4 linked regions of the Homo sapiens genome follow. The protein of the gene in region 1 interacts with the protein of each later gene in a pairwise test. Each region holds a gene or a part of one and is shown in the gene's direction. Other genes may lie near its edges. The genes, in order: ZIC1, SPATS1, ZNF620 and KRTAP3-2.

Region 1 (4,904 bases):
TATTTATAATTCCACTGCAGATGTAAGAATTTATTGACGTTCCGGGTTTTTAAGCTTGCAAAGTGCTAATCCTGGGCTGCTGGCTTTTTGTTTTATTTTTTTTCTATTTGTTTAGTTTTTGAAAAACGGCCGCGGTATTTTTTTCTAATTAGACCCCTCTCATTCTACTTTGGCACCAGGGGAGAAGCCCTTCAAGTGCGAGTTTGAGGGCTGTGACCGGCGCTTCGCTAACAGCAGCGACCGCAAGAAGCACATGCACGTGCACACGAGCGACAAGCCCTATCTTTGCAAGATGTGCGACAAGTCCTACACGCATCCCAGTTCGCTGCGCAAACACATGAAGGTAATCGCCGCACTCTCGTCGCCCCCTTTGAGGCAGGAGCTCTCTTGGCTCTCGGCTTGGGGTCGGGCGGCGAGTGGCAGACAGGCGGTGGCGGGAGCCAGAGGAAGCGGGAAGGCAAAGGTTCCACTCAGTGGAACTGGGCAGAGAAGGTAGGGCGGGACCTGGAAAAGGGGATGGGAGTGTCCAAGGCCGTTTTAAATTTTTGGTTTAATAATAAAAGTTAAAAGAGGCGAGTATGAGCAAAGGCCGCCACTGAATTTGGCCCAGAGCTAGGGCTTTTGCAGGGGGTTGACGCTGCGGAAACTGCTGCCCTTGCAGCTGCCAGTGAGACGCAAGAATTGGACTCCTGCGCCCAGGCCTGAGCTCTGGCTCACCTAAACATGGACAAGCAAAGTTCAGGGAAAGAAAGTGCAGTCTCTGGCCTCATATCCAGTCTCCCTCTTCCCAGACCTATTTTTCTTTTGTGAGTCTTGGGGACCCTGACTTTCCCAGGAGCACGGTTTCTGCAGGCCTGTGCAGAGAAACCAAGCCCAAAGTCCCGCTGATCGGGCCTCACCTGTGTTCAGGGGGCTCCAAGGGGTCCAGGAGGAAGGGCACTCGCGGCCTTCGCCTCTCTAGTCGGCCGCCGCACTGGCTCTTTATGTCCGTAAAAACGCGACTTTATTCCTGCAGGTCCACGAATCCTCCTCGCAGGGCTCGCAGCCTTCGCCGGCCGCCAGCTCTGGCTACGAATCCTCCACGCCTCCCACCATCGTGTCTCCCTCCACAGACAACCCGACCACAAGCTCCTTATCGCCCTCCTCCTCCGCAGTCCACCACACAGCCGGCCACAGTGCGCTCTCTTCCAATTTTAACGAATGGTACGTTTAAAATCAGAAACAAAACATCGAACAAAACCCTATTTAAGAGACTGATCACACACGTATACACAACATTACTGAAAGAACCCTGCGAATCAAAACAACCCCCACACAGACCCCGCAATCCTTTTTTAAAAAATCTGCCAATAGACCCAGGACGAGTAAGAGAGGAAGCATCAACCTTTTAAAAATTTCCTTTCGCTTTCATTATTTTTCTTTTTTTGGCAAAGGCTTGGTACCCAAGGTGCGGTAGGGGGTCGAGGGGGAGGAGGCCACCTGACCAAATGCCGCCAACCCCGAGGGCCAGTTTCTTGTCGAATTGGTACGGGCTCTCTGGGGCTTCGGCTTCTTTTTTTCTTTGTTTTCTTGTAAATACAGAATTATTAGCTTAAAACTGTACTGTTGAATTCTGTAAATAGTTATATCTCGGTTGGAGCGGGTGGGTGGGATTGTGGCGTTGTGGTCTTTGCATTGGGGGAGGGGGGAGGGACCGGATGGGCGGGGGGAGGGGGAGGGGGAGGGGTGGGCGGCCGAAAGCCAACTGTTTGTACTGAATGGCAAGAATGTTCTAGTAAATGTGTACCAAAATGTGAATTACTTTGTACGATTACAGTCTCCACGTCGACCTAACCCAATATTATTGGTATTAATGTGCTTTTTTTGTATAAAGTGCAAACATTTCGTCCCAAAGTCTAAGTACTTTAGTGCAGTAAAATGTTGTTTCATGTCCTGTCAAGAATTCGTATAGTACGAGCCTGGATCTGCGTGTCAAACTGTTCCATTTGTTTATGTAAAGTGATATTAAAAAAGATATAAACTATAACTGTCCGTTACTTTTGGCAAAAGATACAACCACATAATGTATATAATTCCTAGTTTCCATATTTATCCGCATGTAAAGGGCCGGTTTATCCATGTTACAGCTCTTCAATATTTATGGCTAGAAGAACTCGTATGTACACTTTAGTTTCCAGAACTGTTTGGTAACCTTTCGTACCTTATTAAAGATTCTTAAATCTCCGTGATTGTGGTAGGAATTTCTTCTTCACCCACCAGCAACCTGCTGCCTCTTCTGCCAGTCTTAAAGGGTCTCCAGAAAAGCTCTCCAGTCTCCCTTGCCTTCCCTTTCTGTCACTGCAGGTCGTATAAACGTGATAAATGAATGCTACCCTGCTGGCTCTCCGAGAGAGTGTAATTAGTATTTATATCAAAATTTATGAAACAAATTTTCGGCCGCAGTATAATTTAAATGACCTTTGCAGATGTAGAATAACAACCATAAAAATAACAGGAATAGATTGCACAGGCGACATCAATATTAATGTAGACGAATTGTCAGAAGCTCAGGGGCTCGCTCTGCAACATTGCAAATGAACTTGCAGCCGAGGGTTCCGCTGCCCCCTAGATTAAATTCCCCGGGCTGAAACTGAGTTGCAGATTTACAATATCATATTTTAAATTGCTGTCTTCAATTAAACCATTTATGACCATAACTAATTTTCAGGATGTCGATGCATGCTTTTCCAGGCCTTCCTTCTTTGTACAAAAGTAAATGTCCATAAAGCGTTTCACTTATATTCTTCAAACATGATGCTAATTTAAATTAATTACTTCCTATGATATGTTATTATTCCTATGATTTTGCCACTGTTATTAGTTCTCTCAAAAATACATCTAGGGAAGAGGATTATTTTAAGTAATTTGATTATCTTTCTATCTCTTTTATTTATTTCTCATTTACTTAAGAAATTCGTTCCATTGGTTGGCATTGATACAGTAAATTTGTAAATGAGGAGACAATATAAAAAATCTAAATTACTTGTGCTTAATGACTGTAGCAGAATGCCTTTTCTCTAAATCAGATTGTCTTTCTTGCAGTTTAGTTTGATAGATTTGCAAGCTATGCTGCTTCCATGAAGTTAGCTGCGCTGGTAGGAACGCAGGCTTCTTTGTCTCTGGTTGTAGCTTGCATGATCGCCCCATTAGGCAGACAACGTAGCCGGAGATCACAAATCAGGCCCTTGGCTGTAGTTGCTAGTGTGTGGAGGTGCAGAGCAGGTGGCAGAAACTGACCTCACTGGGCAAGGGTGGCCATGGACCTGATTCTTTAATGCACTCTATGTGTTCAGGAAGCCACAGGCCATATTTGACTCTGAGAAAGAAAACAAGAGGAAAAACCCCACAAAGTATAACAACCCCTTAAGATACATCTATTTTAAAGTGAAATTAATTTTTCAGTTTATACCATTGGCCAATTACAAGATAAAAATGTTCAATTTCTTTAAGAATCCTTTGTTGACTTGTCTTTTCATCTCTTGCTATTTATATTTGTCACTGTTTCAACAAAGTCTTATTTGCTGAGGAAGGACTTTGCTGCACTTACTGTACCACATCAAACACTGGGGAGGGTGGTGTTTAACTTTTTAAAAAATGTTATTCTGATTATAACAATAATATTGGCTTTTTTCATGAAAAGAGCGCCACCTTGCAAGGTTTAGTGAGATTTATGGAAGTTGAATACCTAAGCAGGAATTGCTGCTAGCTCCAAAAATTTGCGAAGCAAAAGCTAGCCCCAATTGGTTTGGAAGTTTGAAACTGATTAACAGATTTGCATTTGAAGTGACTCCAGACATTAGGTCCAGACATTAGTTAAAAATAGAAAGAGGAATAAAGACATCTCTTCTCTCTAGAAAAGATAACACCACAATTAATAATCCTTCCCACTTTCATTGAGATCAGCTTGTCTGATAACCTGATATGAGTGTGATAATGATAAACATGATAATAGTGGTACTTTTGTAATTTTGCTGGTGCATTTAAGAAGATAGTAAATGATGAGTTCATCTTTTCTTCGAACATTCCTATTCCTAGATGTAGTTTACCTCAAATTGGGAATTATAACTGTCTAATTTTTGTTGTGTACCTGATGCCCCTTTTGCTTTAATACCACAGTGTAACAATTAAATATCACACTATGACATATGATTTAAGTAGGATATTTTAAAGATAAATTTTAGGGGTAAATGTTTACTTCAAAATGACTCCATATTTCAAATATCTGTTTAGACTGTGAAGGCCAAATAATTTTTAAGAAAACATTTGAAGAGTAGTGTGTTTGCATTTGTGAATAATCTTACTCACAGCAAGTAAACGTAATAAAAGCCAACATTTAAGCCAACCCTCCTGTGCATTCTCTTTTCCAACACCTATCACAAAGAAAAAGTCATTAATGATGTAGGTGGCCTAAAATAATCCTTCGAAGTTAAATGTAGTCTATTATTTTGCTGGTACCTTTAATATCTGCTTCTTGAGATGTATTCTTCATACTTTTTTTCATGGGCTATTAGGTTTTGAAATACATAAATGTGAACAGCAAAATATATTGTTAGACTCTCTTTAGCAGGAGCTGAAGATGCTGCAAATAGCTGTTTCCTGTGTGTAGCTTTAGATTCTGACTTAGGTAGAATGCTGTCCTGGTTCATTTTGCAATTGCATTGTATTCTGAATACTATCAAATGATTAGAACAGCTAACAAGTTATTAAAAAGTTATGTTGTGTCAACAGAAAATGCCTGAGTACAAGCAATCATATTTGAGAAATGAAGAGAAATGAGTTGTGGTATGTGTGTGTGTGCATTTGTAGAGCAAGCATATAAATATACAAGCACCATTTATATGGGGGCTAAGTAATTTCAAACATTT
Region 2 (7,049 bases), on another chromosome or scaffold:
TCTGCAAATGCAACAATCCACCTGTAAAATAAGAACAAAACCTGATAACCAGAACCAGATAAAGTTGCCAAGTCTTCTCTAGTTAGTGACAGAGAGAGCCAGAATTAGAATAAAAATTAGGGAGGTAAGATTACTTATTGAAAAGGTCCCTATAATGTGCAGTACGTTTACAGGGATTATTTATTCAACTCAGCAGACATCCTTTGAGTACCGTTTATGCACTTAATCTACAGGAGAAATGGGAAGGTGGTGAGGTAATGGAGGCAGGGATCACAAAGATGAATAAGATATGATATTTGTTTCAAGGCTCATTGTCTATTGTGGGGAGAGACCACTAGATGAGTAATCATAAAACAATTGAAAGCAAATATGGTACAATGTGTACATAGAGGAAAGACATGGGGGAAGTTGAGGACATGTTGCAGAGGAGGTGGTACTTGATCTGGGTCCTAGATGAGGCATTGCAGTTAATGTATCTTCCAAGGACAAAGTATTATGGGATGCATCTATATTAGGTCACTTAATATTTATTTTTAGATTTCCACATGTGCTTGAAAAGAAAGTGTATTCCACTTAATCAGGATGGAAAGTTAGATACATATACAGAAGATTGACTTTATTGGTTATATTGTTTAGCCCCTATATTTCCTTACTTTTGTTCACTTGGCCTAGTTTGGACTGAGAGTTAGTGTGAGAGTTAAGGTGTCTGAATATTAGCATTTCGACTATTTTTGTTGTTAATTGTGTCTTTTAGCATTATGAAAGTATCTTTATTTTTCTCATTTAATACTTTTTGTCCTAAAGTATACCTAGCCAGTTATTAAGGTTCTAATTCTCTATTTTATTTGCATCTGACCTTTGCCCATTCTTTTTGCCCATTCTTTTGCTTTTGAAGCACTTTGCTTTTAGGGTAGAATTGGATTCTGCTCGTGAGCCAGCTTGAAAATATTTTCTTTAATTCAGGTGAATTAGGCCACTTGCATTTATTGATTAGACTGATATATTTGATTTCAGTTCTGTTACATTATTTGTTACATTTATTAGGTGTACTGTATTACATTTAGTGTGAGTCTTTCAGTGTTTGATTGTTTCAACAAAGGCTGAAAAATGCTTTCTTTTGATATTTAGAAATGCTCGTGTTTTTGTTCTAGTAGTTCTTTACGCTAGTATCTTTATACATTGCTCTTAGTCCTGCTTTTCTTATTTGGGTTTCTACTATTTGGCTTGTTGGCTTTAAGTGATAACTTTGACTTTCACCAATTACCTATGTGGTAACCGTCCTCTTCGTTCTTGCAGGGACTTCCCTACCCCCAGCAGTTTTATCAGGGCATTTTGCCAATTGTGGTATATTTCTCCCCTAAAGCACAAGAATTCTAGCTTCCAAAAGATGAAAACATTTTGCATCTGCCTGCTCCAACTCATCCCAGAGTCACACTTCCTACTACCTATTGGACCACATGCAGCCCAGAAATGTCCTTTCAGGTCTCAGTGGCTCTGGGAAGACTCTGGGTATCTGCATTAGCCAAGGTCCCAGCAGAAAACAGAAAGCACACTCAGCTGGGATTCTGAAGACAGCTTAAGGAAAGGGACTATTTATGGGTGTGTGGGCAGGGTTGGGGGAACCCACATGGGAGGGTGAAGCACCCAGAGGCTCATGACAGTGGGAAGCGTTACTACTCTTGGGTCTGAGCAGCAAGAAGAGGGATCACAGTTTGCAGAACAGTAAGCGCTGGAGCTCCGGGAGAAGGGCTGCCCAACAGGAGCTGTGGCACTGCCAGAATTGGGGTGCCTTGGGAGATAGGACATCAGGGGAGGAACTAGGTAAGAAATGCCCTAATTTCTGTCCACCTTCTGATCTCCTATCGGTGCCATCAGCCAAGCCCAGCTCAAAGGTGGAAGCACGGGTGGGGATGGTGGCTCATGCCTGTAATCTCAGCACTTTGGGAGGCCAAGGTGGGAGGATCATTTGGAGTCAGGAGTTCAAGACCAGCCTGACCAACATGGTAAAGCCCCATCTCTACTAAAAATACAAAAATTAGCTGGGCGTGGTGTCATGTGCCTGTAGTCCCAGCTACTTGGGAGGCTGAAGCAGGAGAGTCACCTGAACCCGGGAGGCGGAGGTTGCAGTGAGCAGAGATCGCACTCCAGCCTGGGCGACAGAGTGAGACTCTGTCTCAAAAAACAAACAAAAAAATATGGGCTGGGTATAGTGGCTCACAACTGTAATCCCAGCACTTTGGGAGGCCGAGGCAGGTGGATCACCTTAGGTCGGAAATTCGATACCAGCTTGACCAACAAGGTGAAACCCTGTCTCTACTAAAAATACAAAAATTAGCCAGATGTGGTGGCATGTGCCTATAGTCCCAGCTACTCGGGAGGCTGAGGCAGGAGAATTGCTTGAATCTGCGAGGCGGAGGTTGCAGTGAGCTGAGATTGTGCCACTGCATTCCAGCCTGGGCGATGGAGTGAGACTTTGTTTCAAAAAAAAAAAATGTGGAAGCACAGAGGAGCCCAGGTGATACTAGCTGCAAGGTCAGCCTCTTGGCAGAGAAGGGCTGAACAAGAGGGTTTGAGGCAGGAGCAAACGGTGAACAACTAACATATTTTATTTTGAAGCTGGTCTCCTAAATTGGAGGTCTTTTTACTTTTGGAGCACATAATTTCTTATCCGCTGTTGGTGTTTGTAAATTTTGCATCAAACTACAACTCAGGGTGTTGTCTTCTTCCCACAGCTTGCCTTTCTGGGTGAAGGAGAAGGCCAACAGTTTGAAAAATGAGATACAAGAGGTTGAGGAGCTTGACAACTGGCAGCCAGCAGTGCCCTTAATGCACATGCTACACCTTTCTGGTGGGTTAAAGAAACTTCAAAGAATAGTGTAAAAACTGGAGGAGTCCGCCGGGTATGGTGGCTCACTCCTGTAATCCCAGCACTTTGGGAGGCCGAGGCGGGCAGATCACAAGGTCAGGAGTTCAAGACAAGCCTGACCAACATGGTGAAACCCCGTCTCTACTAAAAATACAAAAATTAGCTGGGTGTGGTGGCGCGTGCCTGTAATCCCAGCTACTCAGGAGGCTGAGGCAGGAGAATCACTTGAACCTGGGAGGTGGAGGTTGCAGTGAGCTGAGATTGTGCCACTTGCACTCCAGCCTGGGCAACAGAGCGAAACTTTGCCTCAAACACAAACAAACAAACAAAACAAAACTGGAGGAGTCCAGAGAACAGGATTTTGAGAGGCTTCACAGTGGAAAGGAGGGCAGGCAAAGTATCTCCTGGAGTGGATGTGTCTTCTGTCCCGAGGTGGTCTCATGGGCAGATGTCATAGCCAAGCATTGGGGGTCGAGTGTATTGATTGAGAATTGTTAGTTTTGTAATGGAAGAAAACCTGTAACTCCATGCCTCTATCCACAGGTGCTTTGGACTTTCCAAGACAATCCTGAGCATAAACAGGCCCACAAAACATGTGCTGACTGCACTCTGGCGACCCTTTTCCAGTTGATGTTTTTTGTCATGTGACTGTTCTAAATCCAGTGTTTGACCCTTATGAGGAAGTGTTGTGCTTTGCTTTTTTAAAACTTTATATTTTGAAAACTTTCACATTTACATAAAAGTTGCAAGAATTGTACAACAAACACCTGCATATCCTTCACATAGATTCTATCATTGTTAATATTTGTTCAAACTTTCTCTCTCTCACAATATTACAGTTACCATTTTGCTGAACTCTTTGAGAGTGAGTGGCAGATATTGTAACCCTTTACACCTGTATACCTACATACCTCAGCATGTATCTTCTAAGGTCAAGGATGTTGTCTAACAACCACAACACAAATACCAAACTCACAGAATTTAACACTGATAAAATATTATTAACATTTAGTCCACATTCAATTTTAGTCAATTATATTTAGTTTTCTAAGGATGCCCTCAAATCAATCATAAAATACAGACATGATGTGAGTGTCTTAGCCTGTTCAGGCTGCTATAACAAAACGCCATAAACAGAATGGCTTATAAACAATAGGAATTCATTTCTTACAGTTCTGGAGGCTGGGAAGTCCAAGCGCAGGGTGCTGGCAGGTTCAGTGTCTGCTGAGGGCCAGCCTTCTGGCTCATAGATAGTACCTTCTTGCTGTGTCCTCATATGATAGAAAGGGTGAGCTAGTCCTCTGGGGTCTCTTTTACAAGGGCACTAATCTCATTCATGAGGGCTCTGGTCTCATGACCTAATCGCCTCCCAATGGCCTTACCTCCTAATACCATCACCTTGGGGATTAGGTTTCGACATATGCATTTTGGGGTGGGGAGGACAAACATTTAGACCATAGCAGTGAACTTTCATTGCTTTTGGTAAAACTTTTCATTTTATTAATACCTTTTGGAATGTTTCTCTAATGTTAACTTGGTACATGTCAGAAAAACATGAAGGCTGGATCTATACCAGGTAAGTAATACTATTGCCCTGTAGCTGCATTCCCCAGTTTAGTATTGCCTATCTACAATAGCCAAGCAGGGTGAGAGCTCAGTGACCACCAGTCATGAGTTTTAGGGCCTCCTGTCAATCAGACAAGAAGCAAACATTTGGAGGAAAAGGTGAAAACAAAAGCTGCCTCACAGGCTTTGACACAGTCAAACTAGTGACTCACGGCATTTTTACAGCCAATCTCTTTCTCCACTAGGGAACCCCCTTGGCTGGCTAATGAAGGCTGCAGATCTAGTATCTCCAAAACCTTAAAGTGGAAAGAGATTGGGGTCCATGCTGAGACTCCACATGTCTATGACATGAGCATGATTTATTTCCCAAAATGTTTGTTGTCTCCAGTCACAGCCAAAGTGAATGAAGCAGGTTTAGAACACGATACATTTAGCCAGGTGTGGTGGCTCATGCCTGTAATCCCAGCACTTTTGGAGGCCGAGGCAGGCGAATCACTTGAGGTCAGGAGTTCGAGACCAGCCTGGTCAACATGGCGAAACCTGTCTCTACTAAAATCACAAAAATTAGCCAGGCAAGATGGTGGGCACCTGTAATCCCTGGTACTCGGGAGGCTGAGGCAGGAGAATCTCTTGAACCCAGGAGGCAGAGGTTGCAGTGAGCCAAGACCATGCCATTGCACTCCAGCCTGGGCGACAAGAGCGAAACTCCATCCCAAAAACAAAGAAGCAAACAAAAACCACAATGCATTCATGGCACCTTCATATGTGCCTCTAGACTAACTGGCAGAGAGCATGGTGCCGACTGCCAGCTGCTGTGCCTGACCACTCCTTGGGTTAACATCAGCATACATCCGTGCTAATCCTCTGGCCCCTGGGTCACAGGCCCACCCCTGCTCCCAACATAATAATTTAAAAAAACACCAAATAATTTTTAAAAAGACAGAGGCTGCCAAGAGATTTTCCAGGACACATTAACTTCTGAAAAGATAATAATTTTTTGTGCCTCTATTACTTAAATGTAAAAAAGTCTTCTTTCCCCTAGTCAAAAACAATGCCCCACCCCTAAAAAAAAAAGTCAACTGCAACCACCAGGTGGGTTAGTAATGGAGGACACAATATAGAACAAAAAAAGATTCTGCAGAGATTTCCTGGTGAGATTATCTAGGTGGCACAGGAAACTGCTCTCAGAAGGTTCCCTGGTGTTTTGGAAGGAGGGAGTCCTACACCATAAATATATTAAGGAAAACAACCGGCTGGGCGTGGTGGCTCACGCCTGTAATCCCAGCACTTTGGGAGGCCGAGGCAGGCGGATCACGAGGTCAGGAGATCGAGACCATCCTGGCTAACATGGAGAAACCCTGTCTCTATTAAAAACACAAAAAAATTAGCCAGGCATGGTGGTGGGCACCTATAGTCCCAGGACTGTACTATACTCGGGAGGCTGAGGCAGGAGAATGGTGTCAACCTGGGAGGCGGAGCTTGCAGTGACCCAAGATTGTGCCACTGCACTCCAGCCTGGGCAACAGAGTGAGACTCTGTCTCAAAAAAAAAAAAAAAAAAAAAAAAAAAAGAAAGAAAGAAAGAAAGAAAAACAACCAAAATACAGTTTTAGAAGGTTTGGAGTAGTCTCTAGGTTTCAAAGAGGTCTATATAATTCCTAGGTGCTGCTCTAAGTAGATATGATTTGATTCCTTTTTCTTTTAATCCAGGCCGCAAAAACCATGAGTAAAAAAAAAAAACACAAAAAAACAAAAAAACCCTACACAACTGTTAGATGATTGAACTTCTGGAGTTGCAGAGCTACATTTCATCCCCTGAAAATCAGGGCAGTTTTCGCTGGATCTGGTGTTCTCTGTGGGTACATCTCGATGCCCAGGCCTTATTCCACGGCACCTCAATAGCTGTCAGGTAGAGTTCCACTGCCAACTTTGGACAGCATGAGTATGTCTACGTGTGTGGGGAGACAAAGGCATAGAGAAAGGCCACATGGGAAAAATATGTGCATATCATAGCTGTTCCAGCTTTTGCTTCTTTCCAGCTAGAAAGAGGTTGAACCTGTTAGATGTAAAGATCCCCTTCACCTCACTGTAGGGTCTTTGGTAAATAAAAACATGTGGGTGCAGAGGTGTGTGTGTGTTCAATTCTTACTTTCAATAACTGAAGTTCAATAGAAATAAACTATATGTGAAACTTTACAAGTAAATTTCTTAGTGTGCAATTTTATATTGCACAGAGGTATTCTAATTTTGGATCCTGGGATAAATGAAAAATGACCTCTGTGGACATGAAGAAACATTGTATTATTCAGCTAGTGGCACCAACGTTCGAATTAGTGATCTCTGAACTCCAAGTTACCAAAATGTTAAGATAGTAGGATATTAAACTTCTAAAATTCCACAAGGAATTTAGGAATATACTGTAGGATTCCACTAATTGTCCACATTTCTAATACGAGGCACTCAGTTTGGTTAGTTTTGTTTTGTTCTTAGGCATTTTGGTCTCAAAATCTAGGCAGGTAAACACATTGTTTACAGGACTTGACTTGGTGAAGTATTTTAGAGTTGGAGTCCTTCAAGATCATGTCTCTGTCCTAAAGAGGCTTTTCTTTCCTGGCTGG
Region 3 (3,247 bases), about 110 Mb from region 1:
GCCACAAGGTCATTGGATAATTAAGACAAAGTCAAAGAGGAGACATTTCACAGATACCTCAGCCAGGCACCATGAGGCCTATGAGGTCAAGAATGGAGAGAAGTTTGAGAAATTAGGAAAAAATATTAGCGTCAGCACACAACTCACTACAAATCAGACAAATCCTAGTGGTCAGATATCTTATGAATGTGGACAATGTGGCAGATATTTCATTCAAATGGCAGACTTCCACCGACATGAGAAATGTCACACTGGTGAAAAGTCTTTTGAATGCAAAGAATGTGGAAAATACTTCAGATATAACTCATTACTTATTCGGCATCAGATAATTCACACTGGAAAGAAACCATTTAAATGTAAAGAATGTGGAAAAGGTTTAAGTTCAGACACAGCCTTGATTCAGCATCAGAGAATCCACACTGGAGAAAAGCCCTATGAATGTAAGGAGTGCGGCAAGGCCTTCAGTAGCAGCTCTGTCTTCCTCCAGCACCAGAGGTTCCACACTGGGGAGAAGCTCTATGAATGTAACGAATGTTGGAAAACTTTCAGTTGCAGCTCAAGTTTCACTGTCCATCAGCGAATGCACACTGGGGAGAAACCTTATGAATGTAAAGAGTGTGGAAAACGATTAAGCTCCAACACAGCCTTGACTCAGCATCAGCGAATTCACACTGGGGAGAAGCCCTTTGAATGTAAGGAGTGTGGGAAGGCATTCAATCAGAAAATAACCCTGATTCAGCACCAGCGAGTTCACACTGGCGAGAAACCTTATGAGTGTAAAGTGTGTGGTAAAACCTTCAGCTGGTGTGGAAGATTCATTCTGCATCAGAAACTACACACTCAGAAGACACCTGTCCAAGCATAGGGCTATCCATAGTTAGGCCCACTGTGCCTCTCCTTTTTTCTCTTTATTTTCATGCTTTTTATCAGTGTCCTCGCTGTCCTTCCTGGTTAGACACTTGGCTTTCATCATGAACTCTTCTTTAAGTTTTTTGAACCTGTTTCCCCAACATGAAGTCTCTTTATGGTTAGAGAAGACCAAAAAACAAACAAACAAACTTAGAAACATAAAAGGAAATGTAAGTTTCCAGATTTAAAGGACATGCTGGGTGCCCAGCAGGATGGATTCAAGGGAAACCTACATTAAGGAAAATTGCTGTGAATTATGAAAACACCAAGTTTGAATAAGAGGATCATGGAGAAAAAATGAGACCCTAAAAAGTTTCTAGAGAGAGAAAACAAAAGATCAGAAATGAAAGCGGGGCCAGGCGCGGTGGCTCGTGCCTGTAATCCCAGCACTTTGGGAGGCTGAGGCGGGTGGATCATGAGGTCAGGAGTTCGAGACCAGCCCGCCCAATATGGTGAAACCCCGTCTCTCCTGAAAAAAAAAAACACAAAAATTAGCCAGGCATGGTGGCGCATGCCTGTAATCCCAGCTACTAGAGAGGCTGAGGCAGGAGAATCACTTGAATCCCTGAGGCAGAGGTTGCAGTGAGCTGAGATCGCACCACTGCACTCCAGCCTGGGCGACAGAGTGAGACTTTGTCTCAAAAACAGTAAAAAATGAAAATGGCATTAGATTTTTCAAGAGCAACCTTCAAAGTCAGATGACAATGTGTATGCCTTCAGACTTCTCATGGAAAATGTTTTCCCCTGCAATTCTATACTCCAAAGTATAAGTATAGAATAAAGGCATTTCAGACCCTTTAAATCTGAAATCTTTATCTCCCATGCATCCTTTCTCATATGTGCAACACTACACAAGGAGTAAACCAGTAAATAAAAAGACAGATATATGGATTCCCTATTGCAGTCCGTACGTCAGAAGTCTCCTAAATTCAAAAACGGGCCCTGTCCATGTGGAGCCAAATGCATCTTGGAAGACATTCCTAGTAGGGTGCAAACTTCCAGAGACCTATCTCAGGTTCAGTGTCCACCCACCCTACTTATTCTTCAGTTTGTCTTCACTAGACAGTTGTACTCTGTGCCTTTGCAAAAGTCAGGATGTATATACTCTTTGAGTCAGGTGCAAGGCACCATTTGTCTTAAATTTATTCTCATTGCTGTTTCAAGTGACCTCAAAGCAGGCAGCATTTTCTTGCAATTCCATCTAGTTATTTTTTATGATCATGGAAGAACCTACCATTATTGCTGTTACCTGTGGAAATGAGGGAAGATGTAAATGTGTTAGGTTTTAGCATCCCCTCTGGCAGCCAGCTTGATTTTGCAGGAAGCAGAGAGTAGTGATTAATAATACAGAGCCAGGCAGACTTTGGTTTGAGTCCAGGTGTTTGTCCTTGGTTAAGTTACAAAAACTGCACTAGTTTCCTTATCTGTAAAATGAGGATGACAGTTAATCTACCTCATAGGTTTGTGTTGGGGATTAAATGCATTATTTGTAGAAGTGTTTCAAACAGTGACTACATATAATAAAAGTATTACCTATTATTGGCCGGGCACAGTGGCTCATGCCTGTAATCCCAGCACTTTGGGAGGCTGAGGTGGGCAGATCACAAGGTCAGGAGATCAAGACCATCCTGCTAACACACTGAAACCCTGTCTCTACTAAAAGTACAAAAAATTAGCTGGGCGTGGGGTGACATGTGCCTGTAGTCCCAGCTACTTGGGAGGCTGAGGCAGGAGCCCAGGGAGGCAGAGGTTGCAGTGAGCCAAGATCATGCCACTGCACTCCAGTCTGGGTGACAGATTGAGACTCCGTCTCAAAAAAAAAAAAAAAAAAATTTTTACCTATTATTATAATCCTATTGGTAAGTTTTGACTTATCAATATACTAGTGAAACAATTATCACAGTTCAAGATAATAATCAGCCACCACCCCAAAACTTTGCTTGTACCCCTCCATAATCCCTTCCTCTTGGCCCTTCACAGGCAACCACTGGTTTGCTTTCTGTCACTTGGATTAATTTTCCTTTATTTTTTGGTCTGGTGTCTTTCACTCAGCATAATTACTTTGAGATTCACCCATGTTGTTGCATATATATCAATAGTTCATTCCTTTTTATTGCTGAGTAGTATTCCACTGTATGGATATGCCATAATTTGTTTATTCATTGACCTGTTGATGGCCATTTGGGTTGTTTTCAGTTTTTGGCTATTACAAATAAAGCTGCTATGGACATTTGTGTCCACATCTTTGTAAGAATATATGCTTTCATTTATCTTGATACAGGAGTGGAATGGCTAGGTCATTAGGTAGATTGGTATAGATTAAACGTTTTAAATTTTT
Region 4 (6,168 bases), on another chromosome or scaffold:
CCTGAGATAGGTGGATATAAAAGACCCATAGAGGACAACCTTGTAGAAGAAAGCCTTCCTTTGCCACAAAACATTGTCCTGGTCCACTGTCACTATGTCTTGCTGTGATTCCTATCTCCAAGGATGCTGCAGCGTCCCCACTGGCCTGGCCACCACTATCTGCCCCTCTGACATAAGCTGTCAATGTGAAGTCTGCCTACCCAGCACCTGTCCTCATGAGATCAGCCTCCTTCAGCCCACCTGCTGTGAACCTGGCCCCTGCCTGGCTGCATGCCTGACTCCTATGTGCCATCCTGTTGACTGCTCAACAAATGCCACCCAGCTCCAACCCTGAGCGGGCTCTCTGTCACCACCTGCATCCAGAGTGTGAACCACCTTGCTGCTAGCCAAAGAGCTTGCCCACATTACCCTGAGGACCTTCAGTAGTCATTAAGCGCTGCTCAGCAAATGGCCTTTAATGAGGCCATTTGGAAGAAAATATAGCACTGTGCCTTCAGTTTTACAGAAGTTTTCTTTTCCTGTTTTGAACAATGATTTCAAATGAGAAATGGGAAAAAAAATGCTACCATGGATCCCCTTACTTCAAAACTAAATAAACACCACTACTCCCCAAACCACATACTGCCTCAACATTTAATGCTATAATTACCCAACGACTCTTGACACATGCATCATGAACTTAAAAATACATCCAGCAGAATTACACTTTCTGATGACATCAACATAAATTTCATAGCCAAAAAGAGGCCTCACAGGCATACGTAGATACCTGAAGAAAACTGTGAGGATAGTGAAATGCATTAGGCTCTAAGCTTAGAATCGTTTTAAATGCCAAGGTCAGCATCTACCTTTGATTTTTATTTTTTCCCTGCCTCTAAATAAACTCACGTGTCCTTAAAGAGGCAGTGAAGCTAGCAATTTGAGATCAACATGCTCACAGAAAGGACCTCAAAGATTGAGCCAAGCCCATTTTTTTCGCTGTCTCATTTAGGTAAATCTTTGAATTTAAAAATGTTGGCCAGGCATGGTGGCTCACGCCTCTCTAATCCCAGCACTTTGGGAGGCTGAGGCGGGCGGATCACCTGAGGTCCGGAGTTCAAGACCAGCCTGACCAACATGGTGAAAGCCCGTCTCTACTAAAAATACAAAATTAGCCGGGCATGGTAGAGCATGAATGTAATCCCATCTATTCCTCAGGCTGAGGCAGGAGAATGGCTTGAACCCGGGAGGCAGAGGTTACTGTGAGCCAAGATCGTGCCATTGCACTCCAGCCTGGGCAACAAGAGCAAAACTCCATCTCAAAAAAAAAAAAAAGTTTTGACAACTGTAAAGCAATTCACACAAAAAATGAATCACTCTCTTTATATAAAGTGTTACTGTTATAAAAGGCCATTATAAAAATAAATAAATACCTTTTTAATTCTAATCTGAAATGTAATCCAATTCAACAAATATTTATCAAATGCCTACCCTGTTTCAGGCATTGTCCTAGGTGCTTGAAAAAGACAAATAAAACTAACATACGATTACCACTTCCAAGAACCTTGCATTGGAGTGAGGAAAACAAATTTAAGTGACAAACTACAAAATATAGCAGAAAGAAATGAGGTTGAAAGGGAAGAATAGGCAGCCCATTTTGTGAGAGCAGAGAAAAGGATGCAAACATCTAGAAGAATCACCTAGAGTTTCTTTATGAAGGGGATGTTTGGCTGAATCTTGAGGGATCAACAGGATTTGGAAACTAGAGAATTGGGAAAGGTCACTTTAAGCTAAAGAAACAGTATGAACGAGGTCACAGAGGGTAAAGTACCTAGGAGACTCCCGCCTTCACTTTATGTAATGTGCTGTATGATTAACATATGCGTGACTCACATAGTTATCATTTTTGTGATGAGAACACTTAATCCATTCTCTCAGCGTTTTTCAAAAATGCAATATATGGTTATTCACTATAGTCACCATGTTGTACAGTAGATCTCCTGAATCTATATAATATTTCAAAATCGATTTTAAAAGAGAAGTCAGAGAGAACACAGAGAATGGGAGAGGGTCTTCTTCATATATTCTACTTGCCAAGCCACTGGCTTCTAGATGAGAGAGACTGGTAAGTCAAGAGTAAGTAAACATTAAACATTTCCTTGACGATTTCAATACTAGTTCATTAACTTTGAATTTTATAATATACTGGGAAAGCCACTTGAATTTGCTTATCTGTTCTTCAGTGGTAAAGTGCAGGTATTGAGGCAGGAGACTAGCAAAGGGAATTAAAACTTGGATAAAGGGTGGAGTGAATAAAAGCAGAGACCAGAAGCAAGGTGAAGGGGCAGGTAAGCAAGAAGCAAGATAAGAAGCAGAAGTTAGACCAGGCGCGGTGGCTCATGCTGTAATCCTGGCATTTTGGGAGGCCGAAGCAGGTGGATCACTTGAGATCAGGAGTTCAAGACCAGCCTGGCCAACATGGAGAAACACCCCTCTCTACAAAAAATACAAAACTTAGCTGGGTGTGGTGGCGGGCACCTGTAATCCCAGCTGCTACTTGGGAGTCTGAGGTAGGAGAATCACTTGATCCCAGAAAGTAGAGGCTGCAGTGAGCAGAGAATGCCACTGCACTCCAGCCAAAACAAAAAGTAAGATAGAGAAGAAAGCAAGGCCCCCATGGCCGGCAAGATAAGGACCAAACCAGTAAGGGGCAACTCTTCATGGATAAGCATGTGCATTAAAGAGAAAACGTATCCTTAACATGACCTTGTATGAAAATCAGCTCATTCAGGCTTATGCATATGGACTGCATATCATGTATGTACTTAAAATTATGGGCTGGAGGTGGTGCGCAAGCACACAGGGGCCAAAGTAACTAAGCAACACACCTGTCAATCAAAGAGGCAAACACTGGCTAGAGATTAGGCAGCCTTGGGAAGGGACACACACACACACATACACACACACACACACACACAAAGACGCAAACTGCACCAAGCTGGGGGCTGATCTCATCTCACAGAGGCTGGTTTGCTCTCCCCCTCTTAGAGTGTAATACTGTGCTTAATACACTTTTGTTTCTTTGTTTTGCTGTGGGTGTCTCGTCCAATTCTTTGGGACACCAAAAGCCTGGAACTGCATGGCACCATCTGGTAACAGTATGATGTTCGACACCCTTGGCATTTGTTGTAAATTCCTGCTAATAAAAATGATTTGAAGCTGTTTTCTGTTTTTTTGTTTTTAACTTTTAAGTTCAGGGGTACCTGTGCAGGTTTGTTACATAGGTAAGCTGGTGTCATGGGGGTTTGTTGTACAGATTATCTCATCACCCACGTATTAAGCCTAGTACCTACCAGTTATTTTTCCTGATCCTGTCCCTCCTCCCACCTTCCACCCTCTGATAGGTTCTAGCATCTGTTATTCCCCTCTATGTGTCCATGCGTTCTCATCATTTAGCTACCACTTATAAGTGAGAACATGCAGTATTCGGTTTTCTGTTTCTGCATTAGTTACTAAAGATAATAGCCTCCAGCTCCATCCATGTTTCTTCAAAGGATAGGAGCTCCTTATTTTTTATGGCTGCATAGTATTCTATGGCATATATGTACCACATATTTTTGTTGTTAAAGAAAAAGATAAACTGGTTGTTTTAACGTATAACGTATAAGGCTTACCTACCAATGACATTTGATATTTTCCACTGATTTTAGCCAGCTTTCTTCTCTTTTAAGTAGATCGTACTGGTTTTTGGTAATGTCCCCTCAGAAACAACCTACCCGGAATCTTTGCTTTCTGTTAAGTCAACAAATTGCCACATAACGAGTATGTAATTTAAATTATACAATATTATCTGAAAGGATTTGTGCTGATCATGGACAGGTGTAGGAAGATGTTGGAATCTAGAATATTACACATTTGATATTATCTAGTTCAATCTCTGGCTGACTTAAGTAAATAATGTTGTTTAAGGCATACCTCAAAGGAATTTCAATCTAGTTCAAGATCCAAGGTATGAAAACAAATAAACATGCAAAGTAGGGAGTAAGTCAGTGAAAAAGTGATTTTTATGAATGCCATAGTTCTAAATTGCATTGAGTCAGATTCCCTGCCAAAATCCATGATTGTTCTGTGACTCTTGTGGTTTCTCCTTTTAATTCTTATTTCATCTTATTTTAAAGTATGTACACCATTCATGTGAAAATGAATCAAGGCTGAGGTGGTTTTCTTTTAGTGGTATATTCAACAAAGAATGGCCACTGTGTGGATCCTTCCTTCCAATGAATTTATACTTTGATTCACCACAAGATTGGCATAACTTTGAGAATAGAGACTATTTTAGAAAAAAAAAATCCATAGAATAATACAACATTGAGAAATTCACTACAGATTTAATAAAAATAATAAAAAGGAGTTTCTTCATCCTGTACCATTCTACCACTTTGCTTGCTCAATAGAACCTGAATTATAATATCACTAAATAATGCAAACATGTCCGAGATGCCTGTAGTCACATGAAACATTCATCTGTAAATAGCCATATTCTTGTTGACTTTATTGAGTTGAAAATGGTCCAGTTCATCATTTGAGTTACTCATTCTGAAATTAGTCATTAGAAATCACATTATCCATAGTATTTTAAATTAAGAGGGAAAAACAAGAAGAGTTTGGCCTCCAAAATTACAGCTGAATTGTCACTTGGATTGATTACCCATAAAAGTCATATAAGGTTTGGCATGCCAGAAACCTGTGAAGACAAAATGTGATGATCTTGTGACAAAAATGACAAGTCAATGAGTCAAAAATATGATTAACTTAATAAGAGCGGGAACTCTTAATGGACATGTAAATGACAAACTGATTAGAGAATCTCAGTGAAAAAGGGTGCCATAAACAAAACAGGAAGGCTTCCAGTTGGACCAATGCCCACTTGGGAGGGTATATAAGAGCCCTAACAAAAGAGGAGACATTTGTACCTCAGAATCCTCATCTAAGAAACTGAAAGCTAACCAGACGCCCATTGCCATGGATTGCTGTGCCTCTCGCAGCTGCAGTGTCCCCACTGGGCCTGCCACCACCATCTGCTCCTCCGACAAATCCTGCCGCTGTGGAGTCTGCCTGCCCAGCACCTGCCCACACACAGTTTGGTTACTGGAGCCCATCTGCTGTGACAACTGTCCCCCACCCTGCCACATTCCTCAGCCCTGCGTGCCCACCTGCTTCCTGCTCAACTCCTGCCAGCCAACTCCGGGCCTGGAGACCCTCAACCTCACCACCTTCACTCAGCCCTGCTGTGAGCCCTGCCTCCCAAGAGGCTGCTGATGGATGGCTACTTTGCTCAGTGCCCGACAACGAAGAATCCAGAAGCTGTCCCTTCAGTATTCACTTGCCTCAGTAGTTTGCCAGATGTTAAGGTAGACCAGATGACCCAGATATGAAGAACTTACCTTTGGTTTTAATGGGGGAAAAAAAGAAAAGTATTTTTTATGGTTATTTAGCTGAAAAACCATTTGGTTCCTGTGGGCAGGTGAATGAGTTTTATTAGCAAAATACTGTTTCAATCTTTAAGACCTCAGATTACATGTTCTTGATCATATTGCTTCCTGGCTCTTGTTTCTTGTACTGGGTATTTTCATAGAAGAAAATTTCTTGGTGGGTTTTCCAATAAACTATATTTCTCTGGCAAGATGTGTCATTTGTTTATGTTAGTTTTGGGTATATTTCTTCCATTTTAAAAAGGTAAAAACAGGATGATTATTTTAATCTTTTAAAGAAGACTCTATTGGCAGAATGACTAACATTCTTGCTACTACTAACATGGCTTGCTAACTTTTAACAGGTTCTCTTTCATGTTTGCCTTCTCTTCTCTCTTCTTCCTCAGACAAGTGCAATTTTGGTGTGAACCAACATTTATTTATCTACTCTTCACCAGTAAATTATTGATTTAGTCCTTAAAACAGCACTAATGGATAAGAAAAAATGAAGTTTTAAGCGTTATTCAACATTCTGAAAGTCATAAAGTTAATTACTTAGAAAATCAGAATTCAGCCTCTTGTATGTCTGACTCTAAAGCCCAATTTTTCCTACCACATCATAGAACCTTCAATACTAATGAAACCAGAAGCTTAATGAGCACAGTTATGAAATAAACCCAAAATATGCAAGAGAAATAAAACATGTAAGATTCTTTAA

Evidence for each region.
Region 2: the proteins of ZIC1 (region 1) and SPATS1 interact in binary tests that used the Homo sapiens proteins (3 or more experiments, as listed by UniProt).
Region 3: the proteins of ZIC1 (region 1) and ZNF620 interact in binary tests that used the Homo sapiens proteins (3 or more experiments, as listed by UniProt).
Region 4: the proteins of ZIC1 (region 1) and KRTAP3-2 interact in binary tests that used the Homo sapiens proteins (3 or more experiments, as listed by UniProt).

Annotation. Positions count from the first base shown.
Region 1 is NC_000003.12:147,412,339-147,417,242, forward strand, and holds the end of ZIC1 (zinc finger protein ZIC 1), read left to right. Parts: intron 1-179; coding exon 180-343; intron 344-1,015; coding exon 1,016-1,213; 3' UTR 1,214-4,381; downstream 4,382-4,904. UniProt on the Homo sapiens protein: Acts as a transcriptional activator. Involved in neurogenesis. Plays important roles in the early stage of organogenesis of the CNS, as well as during dorsal spinal cord development and maturation of the cerebellum.
Region 2 is NC_000006.12:44,373,626-44,380,674, forward strand, and holds the end of SPATS1 (spermatogenesis-associated serine-rich protein 1), read left to right. Parts: intron 1-2,732; coding exon 2,733-2,848; intron 2,849-3,409; coding exon 3,410-3,438; 3' UTR 3,439-6,554; downstream 6,555-7,049.
Region 3 is NC_000003.12:40,515,999-40,519,245, forward strand, and holds the end of ZNF620 (zinc finger protein 620), read left to right. Parts: coding exon 1-865; 3' UTR 866-2,738; downstream 2,739-3,247. UniProt on the Homo sapiens protein: May be involved in transcriptional regulation.
Region 4 is NC_000017.11:40,998,687-41,004,854, reverse strand, and holds KRTAP3-2 (keratin-associated protein 3-2), read left to right. Parts: upstream 1-4,948; 5' UTR 4,949-5,001; coding exon 5,002-5,298; 3' UTR 5,299-5,662; downstream 5,663-6,168.